Linked DNA regions of Homo sapiens: region 1 is linked to region 2. The links come from fine-mapping of genetic effects on plasma protein levels. A gene starts in region 2. The other region holds a variant in brackets. All regions are shown on one strand. Distances are between the middles of the regions.

Region 1 (5,372 bases), 99 kb before region 2:
GCCTGAGCATTCTAGGGAAAATGTCCAGACAATCTGGCTGGAGCAGAAGGTTCATGTTGGGGAGTCACAGGAGGCCAAACTGGAAAGGGGGGTTGGTCTGCAGCTGCAGGCTGAAGAGACTCACCTGTGTCCAGGAGACAGCAGGGAAACACTGAACACTGTGAGCTTGTCATGGATTTAAGGTTCTAGTGAACTAGAGAAGAAGGAACAGAGGCCAGCAGACCTTCCTGGAGACTATGGAGTATGCCAGATGCAGGCAACAGAAGCTGACATGGGGATGTGGCTGGGGGAATGGAGAGACAGGAGCAGATGCAAGAGGACAAATGCCGCAGAGCAGGACCAAGCAGGACACACCGCTGACTGGGTGAGCGGAAGCACGGGAGAAGGCCAAAGAGACTCTGAGGTCTGATCTCCCTCTCCTCTGTGATGAGCACAGAGAGGCTGTTGGGAAAGGAAAGCGGCCTTGAGGGATGGTTTGTTGTTAGACATGCTGTGAGCCTGGGGCACTCAGGGGGACAAAGCCAACTGGGGCTGGAAACATGGAACTGGAGACACAGACTGCACAGAGAAGGAGCTGAAGGAAAGCTTCAATGTCCATTGTGAGAGGGTGACGTGAAGGAGACAGAGGAGTGGACAGAGAGGCAGAGGAAAAGGAAGATGAGGCCTCCACCCAGGAATGTCTCCACACCACCAGCCCCTGAAGGGGAGATGCTCAGGAAGTGGCTAGAGGCTCTCAGGGAACCAAACAATGTGAGCCCCCATGAGCTGGGATTCTGCCGTATTAAATATAAACCCGTCGTCTGCTATGCCCAAGAGTTCTGGACCAGCTCATGGGAAGGGAAGAGGTCTCTTGGATAGAAACACAGAAAGACATGGCACATGTATACCTATGTAAAAAACCTGCACGTTGTGCACATGTACCCTAGAACTTAAAGTATAACAACAACAACGATAACAAAAAAACCATACTTGGAAAGGATTTACCTTTCTGCAACAATGGACTGGTACATACAGGATGATGGTAATGATAAGACACGTAAATTATGTTCCCACTGGAAACCTGCCCTGTCCACCCCTTCTCATTTCCCTTAACCTTATCCTCAAACTACTTTAGCTGAGAAGCTTTCCAGCAGACTGAGTTAGTGGTGGCTTATACCTATTTATATTTGTATTAATTGCTTACAGATTATACCTCATATTAGCAATTACCTTACACTACAAGAAAATGTAAAAAAAAAAAAAAAGAAAAAAAGAAAGAGAGCTAACATTTATTATGTATTTACTACGTACCAGTTATGCTGCTTACAGTAGCTTATATCACCTAGTCCTCCCCTTTCATATGAGGCACAGCAAGGTCAAGGTCATCAAATAGCAGAATAAAGATGTAAATTCAGGCTGCCAGCTCTAGAGCCCTGGCTGTTCTTAACTACTGTGCCACGTGGTTGCACAACTTGGCAAGGAGCAAAAAAACATTGTTTAGCCAGGGCCAGCCTTTTCTCAGCAGGACTGCAGCCTCCCAGGGGCTCCTGAGTGAAAAGCACCCGTGATTCCTGCATTCAGCTCTCCAGAGTGCCCTCCCACCCTTCAGGCCCCAAAAGGGAGGGAGGCAGCTGGCAGAGCAGGTGCCCCTGTCTTAAGGAGCACTAAAAAGGCAGAAGGCATAGTGAAGGGAGCACAGGCTCTGGGGTGAGAAAGGGGAGGTTTGAACCTTGACTGCCTCTTCGCCTCTCTGAGCCTCAGTTTTCTGTAGAACAGGAGGAGTAATACTTATTTCATATGCGTGTATGAGGAGTGAAAGAGATCAGGTCTATTTAACGCTGAGCACAATGCCTAACATAGCACTGTCGGAGGTCAGCAAATGCGGCCTGATGACATGCTTCCCCACTCTTCACCACTAATCCTGTCCCAGAAGACAGGCTCCTATCTCAGCCCTGGACGGGTGCTGCTTACTCCCCGCCTTGACAGCTGGTATGTCAGATAGCGTAAGAACAGAGATTAGAATACACACCACCAGGGTCTATAGCCATAACACCCTGAACGCGCCCAATCCCATCTGATCTCTGAGGGTAAGCAGGGTCGGGCCTGGCTAGTACTTTGAAGGAAGCAGCCTGGGGAGGTGGAGAGAGAAAGCAATAGTTCCAGTCCTGACTCGGCCCCTCACTAGGAAAGATGCCTTGGACGTGTCCCTTAACCTCCTGAGCCCCATTTCCTCCTTTTTAATACAAAGGCATTGGTGGACTAAGAATGAGCTTCCTAAGGTTAAGTTTGAGTTCTTTTTTTGTTTTTAATTATACATCATGTACACTTATGATACAGGTATGGAGTTATATATTCTCATAAAAGCTTCAAACTATACAGGTAGAGCAAGAGTCTCCTCTGACACCCCAGTCCTCCAATCCCAGTCTTCTCCTGAGAGGTGGCCCCTGGAATGGGCCCGAAGTGGCCGTTTCCAGATCTTTGTCCTTGCATTTATATACATGTCCATAGAAATACAGAGTTTGTGTGTGGACGTGTCTGAGTTGTTTTAATTTGGGTGGTTTTGTATCTGCAACTTGTTTTGTTCATTTAATCATATTTCTTGGGAGTTTTCCAAGTTCTCTTTGAGTCATAAAGTGTGATAGTTATGAGGGTATTTGGCAGTAGGAATAGAGAGAGAGAGACTCTGAAAAGAAAAAAGCTGGAAAGCAGAAGCAGGGAGCCAAATGCAGAGAGACACAGCAGCAGAGTTAGTGTTTGTAGTTGAGTCTTTGTTCCTGATCTCAAGCCTCATGGTACCTGGAAAAGCTACCCAGCTCTCAGCCAGGGAGCCATGTGGTTACAGACCGAGGTGACACTCATACACACTCACTGGTTCACAATGAAACTCAAACATTCGCAGGCACAGCCACAGGTGTCCAGGTACAGCAATACACAAGACAGCCATGGCCCAGCCCTCCTCTACTGTCAAGTGGGGAAATAGACATGAAACAAATTCCATACGAAGCTAGTTACCTGCTGGAAACGAAAGGACTCCGATCGT[T/C]TCTTCTGGTTGAGCTGCCACTCTTTGAAGTGGAGCACAGCCTCATCCACGTTGACAATGCCCAGCTTCACCTGCTCCTGGAGGGTGATAAGCTGCCGCTGGCCTGGCGTTTTCATTCCCGCAAAAGGGTCATATATACTCGACTGGGGCCTGTCCCTCCATGGTCTGACGGGCGGCCCTGGAAAGGATGGCAAAACTCAGCTTGACAGCTCCCCCACTGGGGACCACTCACCAGAAGTGTACGGTTAATGAGGCTGGTCACAGGCTCAAGAGGACTCTTCTCAAAAGAACAATTACATGTGGCCAAGAAGGGGGAGATACAACATAAAATCAGGGGAGAAGAATGCAGCTAATAATTCCAAGGCCTATCACACTGAAGTAGACAAGGCTGCAACATTTAAGGGAGGCGTGAAATCTGCTGACTCTCCCAAGTCTTAACTATTATTATTATTTTTAACAGGCTTCATTCATTTCATTTTTCTGGTAAGAAAACCGTACGTTGTAGCCACAGCTGGAACCTGCGTCTTCTGCTTAGAGACTCTGGTGTGGGTCTTGAGAGATGGTCAGTGAATTCCTGGTAGGGAAACTTGGTGAATACAGTCTCTTTCCAGAGGTCAGGGATCCAGTTGCTAGCAGTCTTAGAGATGGCATCAAAGGTGGCCCAGGGTGGCAGTGCGGTCCCTGGCCAAGGCGTAGCAGCCATCAGCAGCAGCTTCTTGGGCACAGAGGCCAAGATGATGCTTAGTGCCCCTGGGGGCAGGGATGAGGCACACACACCAGCACAGAGCCAGTGGCCTGTCACGTTGCAAAGGCTGGTGTGGGGCTTGCTGATCTTGTTCCCCCTGTAGCCTCTCTGTGCGGGTCCAATGGAGAGCTTGGCTGGGATGATGGCCCGTTGGATGGTAGTGGCTACCCCCTTGGAGTGCTTAATACCCAGACAACATGGCCATTGTAGTCCTCAAAGGCAACAAACACCTTGAACCTGGTGAAATGGCCAGCATGGGTCAACTTCTGTGCCAGCATAATCTTCAGAACCCCATTCTTGAGAGACGACTCCAGGAAAAGGTCAATGATCTCAGACACCTTGATGGGCAGAGAGAAGACAGCTCTCCCAGGACTTGATCTTCACATCTTTGGCCAGATGGTTTAACTTAGTGATAGGCGTCGACTCCTTGTTCTCAGACTTACCTCTATGAGCTCCAGAGCCTTGGCCCCAGCCACAGCCACAACCTTGGCCTGATGTCACTGCCAAAGCCTCCAGGGAGGCCATCGCAGCCTGCCATTCCAGGACCCCCAGGCCCTCCCACTGCATCAGCATCATCCACCATTTGGTGTTTTCTTGAAGAAGCAGCCAAGCCTTAATTATTGAGACGCCTTTAGACAAGTATTTCTCAACCTTGGCACTATTGACATTTTGGGCCAGGTAATTCCTTACTGTGTGGGTGTGTCCTGTGTATTGTAGGATGTTCAGCAGCATCCCTGGCTTCTACCCATTAAATGCTAGCAGCACCCCCTTCTTGAGTTGTGACAACCAAAATTCCCTTATATTGCCAAATGTTCTTTAGGGAGGGGGTACAAAATCACTTCCAATTGAGAACCACTGCTTTAGACTTAAATCCATACCCAGAAGAGAATACACTGGAAGAGTTTAGCCAGGATGCTTCTCTTAGCCCCACTCTCATCCCTCACTGTCTCTAAGCAGCATGAGGCACAGTGATTGTGGACCCATGGGCATGAAATGCCCCAGGAGACTGGAACATCAGTGGAATCCTGACACAGGCCCAACAGCATCAGGTATAAAGTAGGTGCTGGCTTCCAGCTGGCTACCCTTGGGTTGTTCCTGTGCCAACCTCTCTTCTACATTACAAATTCACAGTTCTCTGCTTTGGAGCTTCTGGAGAAATATGAAGCCAACCCTCATCTCTCTACAGGCTGTGACTTCAGTTCTGTGGGGAATGAGCTACTCGCAGCGACCATGGGGCCACTGAGGCAACTTGACGTTTCACTCAATTCATACAAGGCTATTTGGATCTAAATTTCTCCAGCAGGACTCCATTTGGGCATTGTGACTCAGGGACATAACATGAAGAAAAAAGAGAAATGGCTGCACCGGTGAGTACTGAAAAAGCCTCAGAGACGTTTATCTATCATTCTGCCCAACCATTCACTTATCTGTCCGCACACACCCACACATCCTTCTCCCAGGTCTGCCCTTGTCAAGGCTCTCTTTAATGGTATTGGGAGACACAGTGGAGGAAAAAACAAAATGCACAAGCCAACCAGTTCCAGTTTCCTACTACCAGAGCCCTTTGGGGGATGCCTTCAAATGCTTAGATGGTGTCATGGCTACTTT
Region 2 (5,303 bases):
CATCTCTCTTTTTTTTTGCTTGTTCATTTATTAAGAGAAATGAAACACATGAGCTAACAAGGAGTCTACAAGCCCTAGAAAGAAATGAGGAAGGGTCTTTCTTTGTCCTCGTAAAACGTCAAGAACAGGTTTGGCTACAGAAGGAGAAAGAAATGGATCACAGCAGAGGAAGGGGAGGCTGTAGCAGCAGGGAGTCCATGGGGTGAAAAGCTGGGGCTGAAAGAGAGGTGCCTTTGCAGGATTCAGAGCCCAATGGAGGGCCGAGCGTGGTGGCTCACACCTGTAATCCCAGCACTTTGGGAGGCTAAGGAGGGCAGATCACTTGAGGCCAGGAGTTCAAGACCAGCCTGGCATGGTGAAACCCTGTCTCTACTAAAAATACAAAAATTAGCTGAGTATGGTGGTGGGCACCTGTAATCCCAGCTACTCGGGAGGCTGAGGCACGAGAATCACTTCAACCTGGGAGGCAGAGTTTGCAGTGAGCCAAGATCGTGTCACTGCACTCCAGCCTGGGTGACAGAGTGAGACTCCGTCTCAAAAAAAAAAAAAAAAAAACTCACTGGAGAGAAGTACAGACAGGAAGTGCCAGAAAGCTTCTCAAACCACCCAGCCCAGACCATTTCTTCAGCCTATAGGTGACTCTGGCACCCCATTCATCCATCCTGGAGCCCCATGTTTGAATCTGAACACCATATTTGAAGAGGGATGAGAGATAGGGAAGGTGACCAGGATAAGGAGAGATGTGGTCAATCATATCAGGAGCTTCCCACCCCAGAAGTTGTTCAAATTTAGGTACTGGCAAGAGTATTGAGAGGCCTCAAGGATCACATGGAAGTTAAGGTCACAAAAAGGTTAAAAGTCCCTTCAAGCTCCATGGTCCTGTAAGTCCAGGAATAGTAGAAGGATCTAAAGAGAAGAGCCTTGGAGAGAGGGGGCAAGAGACGGTATGAGAGCTGATACACAGAGGAGAGAGTACTAGTCTTTCTTCACCCAGCCACAGACTTGGCCACTTGGGAAAGTCACTCACGGATCCTCTCTTTCCTCTCTCTCACGTGTAAATACACAAGATGCCATCAGGGGCCTAGAGAATTTTGTGGAATAGGCCAAGTCCATTTCATTTTATCTTCCTACCCAAGGTCCTTTCAAAGACAGGGAGCCTAACTTCTCCTGGATTTCAACAAGCAGACATCTTTCAGAAAACAATATAGACTAATGCTTCCCCTTCAGTGGAAGGGAATTTAAGAATTAGGCCATAAAAAGGAACGAAGTACTGATATAAGCTACAGTGGGATGAACTTTGAAAATATTATGCTGTACAAAGGAAGCCAGTCACCAAAGACCACATACTATGTGATTCCATTCATATACAAGCCCAGAGTAGAGAAATCTATAGAGGCAAAGTAGATCTTAGGGCTGGGAGAGGAGAGGAGAATAAAAGGTTGATACCTAAAGCATACAAGGTTTCTTTCTGAGGTGATGAAAATGTCCCAAAATTGACTGTGGTGATGGCTACACATATCTGTAAAGATACTAAAAACCACTGAATTGTATGCTTTAAATGGATGAATTGTATGGCATGTGAATTATATCACAATAAAGCTGCTTTTAAAAGAAAAGAAGAACATACAGAAGGGTGGCTGGATGACTCCAAAGCCCACAGCACCTTGGCGAGCGGCATTGCTCTCACCACTGTGATCTTCCCCCATGGGTCCTTGTACTTCCAAACCTCAGGGAACCCGAGGGACTCCAGAGACCCAACTCTCAATTACAGCACCTGGAGTGGTGTCTCGCCACAGAAGACGCAGACAGCAAGACAGTTTGACAGCTCTAACCATTACAAACACCTGCAGAAGCTGCTACAGAGCCCATAAATAGCCCCAGGTTTGCCCACCGGACTAGGGTCCCCCTCTGAACTGGAGCTCGCCTTCCTAGCTCCTTCGGCTGTGTCCACTGGAGAGAGGTACACAGGACGCTGGAAAAGAGGAAAAGAGAGGCCATTTTCTCAGACTCTTCCACCCAAAGGCCCTCCCAGTTTGCGGTTTCCTGGACTCAGCAGCCCAGGGCCTGTTCCTGACCATGGAAGGAGGAGGCGGCTTCACTGGTTTATTATCTGGCCTCATCTCCCTCTCCCCCACAGCCCACCTACTCCAGCCACTCTGGCCTACTCCCTTTCCTTTAACGCACCACATACACTCATTGCTTGGAGCACTCTTCCCCAAAGAGCCTCCTCCCCCTGGAAATCTTGGCTCAAATGTGCCTTTCTCCACCCTGGCCACCTCATTTGAAAATCCTAACCCCAGTCTCCCTCACCCTTCTTTATCGTTTTCCCATAACACATGTCATACCAGAGATTTTCCTTATTAAGTGTATATTACCTGCTATTACTAGGCCTCCTTATTCACAACACAGCTTCTTTTAGCCTCCAGAGCCCAGCTGGAGAGCCAGGAGGCTGTGATTAACTACCTTCCCATCCCCTTTAATGAGCCTGTAGTACATGGAACAATCACTCCTGGCCTTTTCTACCTCTGCTTCCGAAGCACCCTTACCAGACCCTCAGAGGATCTGGGGAGAGCTGGCTCTTCATTCCAGTGTTTGCTCACCTCCTGTAAGAACAGTGCCTTCTCCTGGCCACCTAGATTTTCTTTTTCAAGGGGCACCTGCAACCTGTTTTCACAGGTTATCCCTACTAAAACATCATAAAGTGGGCTGGGAAAATACAAGTAAACCCATTTGTAAACACTGTAACTCTACCTCCTCTCATCTAGTAATTCCTTGTTTACTTATTGCTTTCCTCTACAGGACCATAAACTCCTGGAGAGCAGAGACTAGGTGTTTCCTGCCCACCATGGAGAACATATTAGGTGCACAGTATCCATTGGAGTGCAATAGTAAGGACTCATTAATTGTCTCCGTTATCATCATTATGTGGCTTGTCCTGGATCTCCGTCAGTGAGCGACTTGCCAAGTGTGTACACCCATGAACCAGAAGGCAACCCAAGACCAGCCAGAAAAGACGCTTGGCACCCTTTGATGAGTACATTTACCCAGTGACCGCCAACTCTCCCCATTCCCCAAAGTTCTGCAAAGGACGCAGGAAAAGTAAAGTTCAAGGAATAGTGTTCCTAGATCCCTAGCAAAGTTCTAGACCCAAAACACAAAGCCTGGGAGGGGTGGAGGAACGGGGCTTGGGGAACTGTCCCAAGGGCCTCCCCGGCTGATCTCTCCGCACCACCTAGGACTGCCTGAGCGCCCCCTGTGGGTCCACGGAGCCCAGGAGACGCGTTTGGCCCTGTAGACCATCCACATCGCCCGCCCTCCGCTTCTCTCAACTCGCCTCTCGCTTCAGAGTCGGAGGGACAGGGGAAGCGACGCTCAGACACTCCTAGGGCCAGAGGTGGAGGGAGCGAAGGAGACCCTGAAGAAGTGGGAGGGGGTCGGGCCAGGCAGGGGCTGAAGAGAATCGCGCCACAGGCTGGGACGGGAAACGTGGGAAAGTTGGAGTGGGAAGTTTGCGACAGGGAACATAGAAAAGAGCAGAAAGAGGGCAAGATCCCCGCACAGAGGACGCAAACAGAAGCAAGCGGGGGAGCGCGCCTCAAGGGATGCGGGGTACGAGAGAGGGGCCGGGAGCCCGGGGACCCGCGGCGCCTGCCTACCCACCTGAGGCTGCCATGCCGCGGGGCGCCGCTCACATCCCTGGCTCGCTGCGTGCCCGGGGCCGGGACCGGGGCCGGCGGCGTCCTGGCTCGGGCTGGAGGGGCGCCGGGCTCCGCGCGGGACCGGCCGCCGCTCTGGCGCTTCCTCCCTCAGGGCAGCCCGGCCTCGCCACGAGGGCGTGTCCACAGAGTCCGCCCCGCCTGCGGGACTCGGCCCGCGGCACCTGCACCCGCGGCCGTTGGGGAGGGGAAGTGAGAACCCCATGCCGGCCGCCGGCCAGCTCCCCCCACGGCCCCCTGCTCAGGGGCAGCGAGAAGGCGGGGGCTTCGCGCCACGTGCGCCCCACTCCTCGGGAAACCAGCCCTGATCTGCCACCAAAGGGCAGCCCGAGGTGGAGGGGGTGTGGGGAGGAGGCGGAGGGGGAGAGTGTGGGGCTGCCAGGCCTCTGGGAGACAGGGCGGGGGTGTGTGTGTGTGTGAGCACCAGCTGTCCAAGCCACCTCCTCATCGCCTGGGGCTTTGTCCCTAAGCCCCTGCTGCCCCAGCAGGAAAGGGGAGGGGACAGGAAGGGGAAGAGGAGGAGGGCTGGGCACCTGGCCCTGGGTGCTCGGCGTTGCCCTTGAGTGCCCTCCTGTGATCTTTCTGCCGTTCCTTGGATCTGGTCTCCTGATGGCACATGAACATTAATTATAATGTCACATGATAAATGTCTAATAGAGTTTCTCTGCCATTCATTTCCTGTGTTCCTGTCTGCTGGGCGCTGCGTTTAGCACCTTACACACATTATCGCATTGCATCCTCACAGCAACCTTCTGAGGTAGCACCTATCACTGTCTTTACATTGGAGCCAAAGAAACAAGCCAAATACCTTGCTCAGGCTTCCACAGAGAACAAAAGCTCCCGGAGGTTCAGTACCAAGCCAGTCTGCTTCCAGAGCTAGAACTCTTGCTTAACCCTTGCCTTCACCTGCCCTCTTCTTGGACTCCTCCCTTTGCCTGCTGCCGAAATTCAACTGAATAGCACATCCCCTTGGAGTTCTCAACAATCCAGGGGCCAGAAGATGGACCCAGAGAGCAGAGATGAGGCAAGGTTAGGGCTGAAGTCCAGGTGGAAATAAAATGAAATGGATTTAAGAACGGGAATATCAGGATGAGGCCGTGCATTCATTTTCTTCTGTTGCCATAATAAATTACTACAAATTTAGTGGCTTAAAACAACACCAACTTATCATTTTACAGTTCTGTAGCTCAGAAGTGTGACATGAGTCTCCATCGGCTAAAATCAAGGTGGTGGCTGGGCTGGGTTTCTTTCTGCCAAATAGAAGGGAATCAATTTCCTTGGCTCTTTCAGCTTCTAGAAGCCATCCACATTCCTTGGCTCATGGCCTCCTTGTTCTATCTTCAAAGCCAGATGGCCCTGCTTCTGTCATCATATCCCTTTCTCTGACTCTCTTCTGTCTCCCTCTTCCAGTTTTAAGGATCCTAGTGGCCGGGCGCGGTGGCTCACGCCTGTAATCCCAGCACTTTGGGAGGCCGAGGCGGGCGGATCACGAGGTCAGGAGATCGAGACCATCCCAGCTAAAACGGTGAAACCCCGTCGCTACTAAAAATACAAAAAATTAGCCGGGCGTAGTGGCGGGCGCCTGTA

Alleles and levels. Positions count from the first base shown, and alleles are read on the strand shown. Strength reflects both the effect of a copy and how common the allele is.
As copies of T replace C in region 1, the plasma level of the protein whose gene starts at base 3,793 in region 2 goes up (moderate association).

The links. PIP is the chance, under the fine-mapping model, that this variant and not a neighbour inherited with it causes the effect. The UK Biobank Pharma Proteomics Project read protein levels with antibody pairs (Olink). The fine-mapping took linkage between variants from a reference panel, not from the people measured, so its PIPs are less certain.
Region 1: its variant is fine-mapped to the plasma level of the PIK3AP1 protein (UK Biobank, PIP above 0.99). The variant lies in the coding sequence of PIK3AP1. If it changes the protein, the assay may bind it differently, which can mimic a change of level.

The regions. Positions count from the first base shown.
Region 1 is chr10:96,617,361-96,622,732 of GRCh38, forward strand. It overlaps PIK3AP1 (phosphoinositide-3-kinase adaptor protein 1), which reads right to left. Exons shown (of 17, transcript NM_152309.3): 12 at 2,992-3,197. It also overlaps the pseudogene RNA5SP324 and the pseudogene RPS2P36. Among named protein-coding and RNA genes, the nearest start is that of TM9SF3, 33 kb to the left of the region's middle. RefSeq lists a silencer at 5,057-5,278. The variant T/C (reference allele first, on the strand shown) is at 3,020.
Region 2 is chr10:96,716,722-96,722,024 of GRCh38, forward strand. It overlaps PIK3AP1 (phosphoinositide-3-kinase adaptor protein 1), which reads right to left and starts at 3,793. Exons shown (of 17, transcript NM_152309.3): 1 at 3,661-3,793. The coding sequence starts at 3,673. RefSeq lists enhancers at 3,315-3,424, 4,275-4,384 and silencers at 3,555-3,804, 3,855-4,154.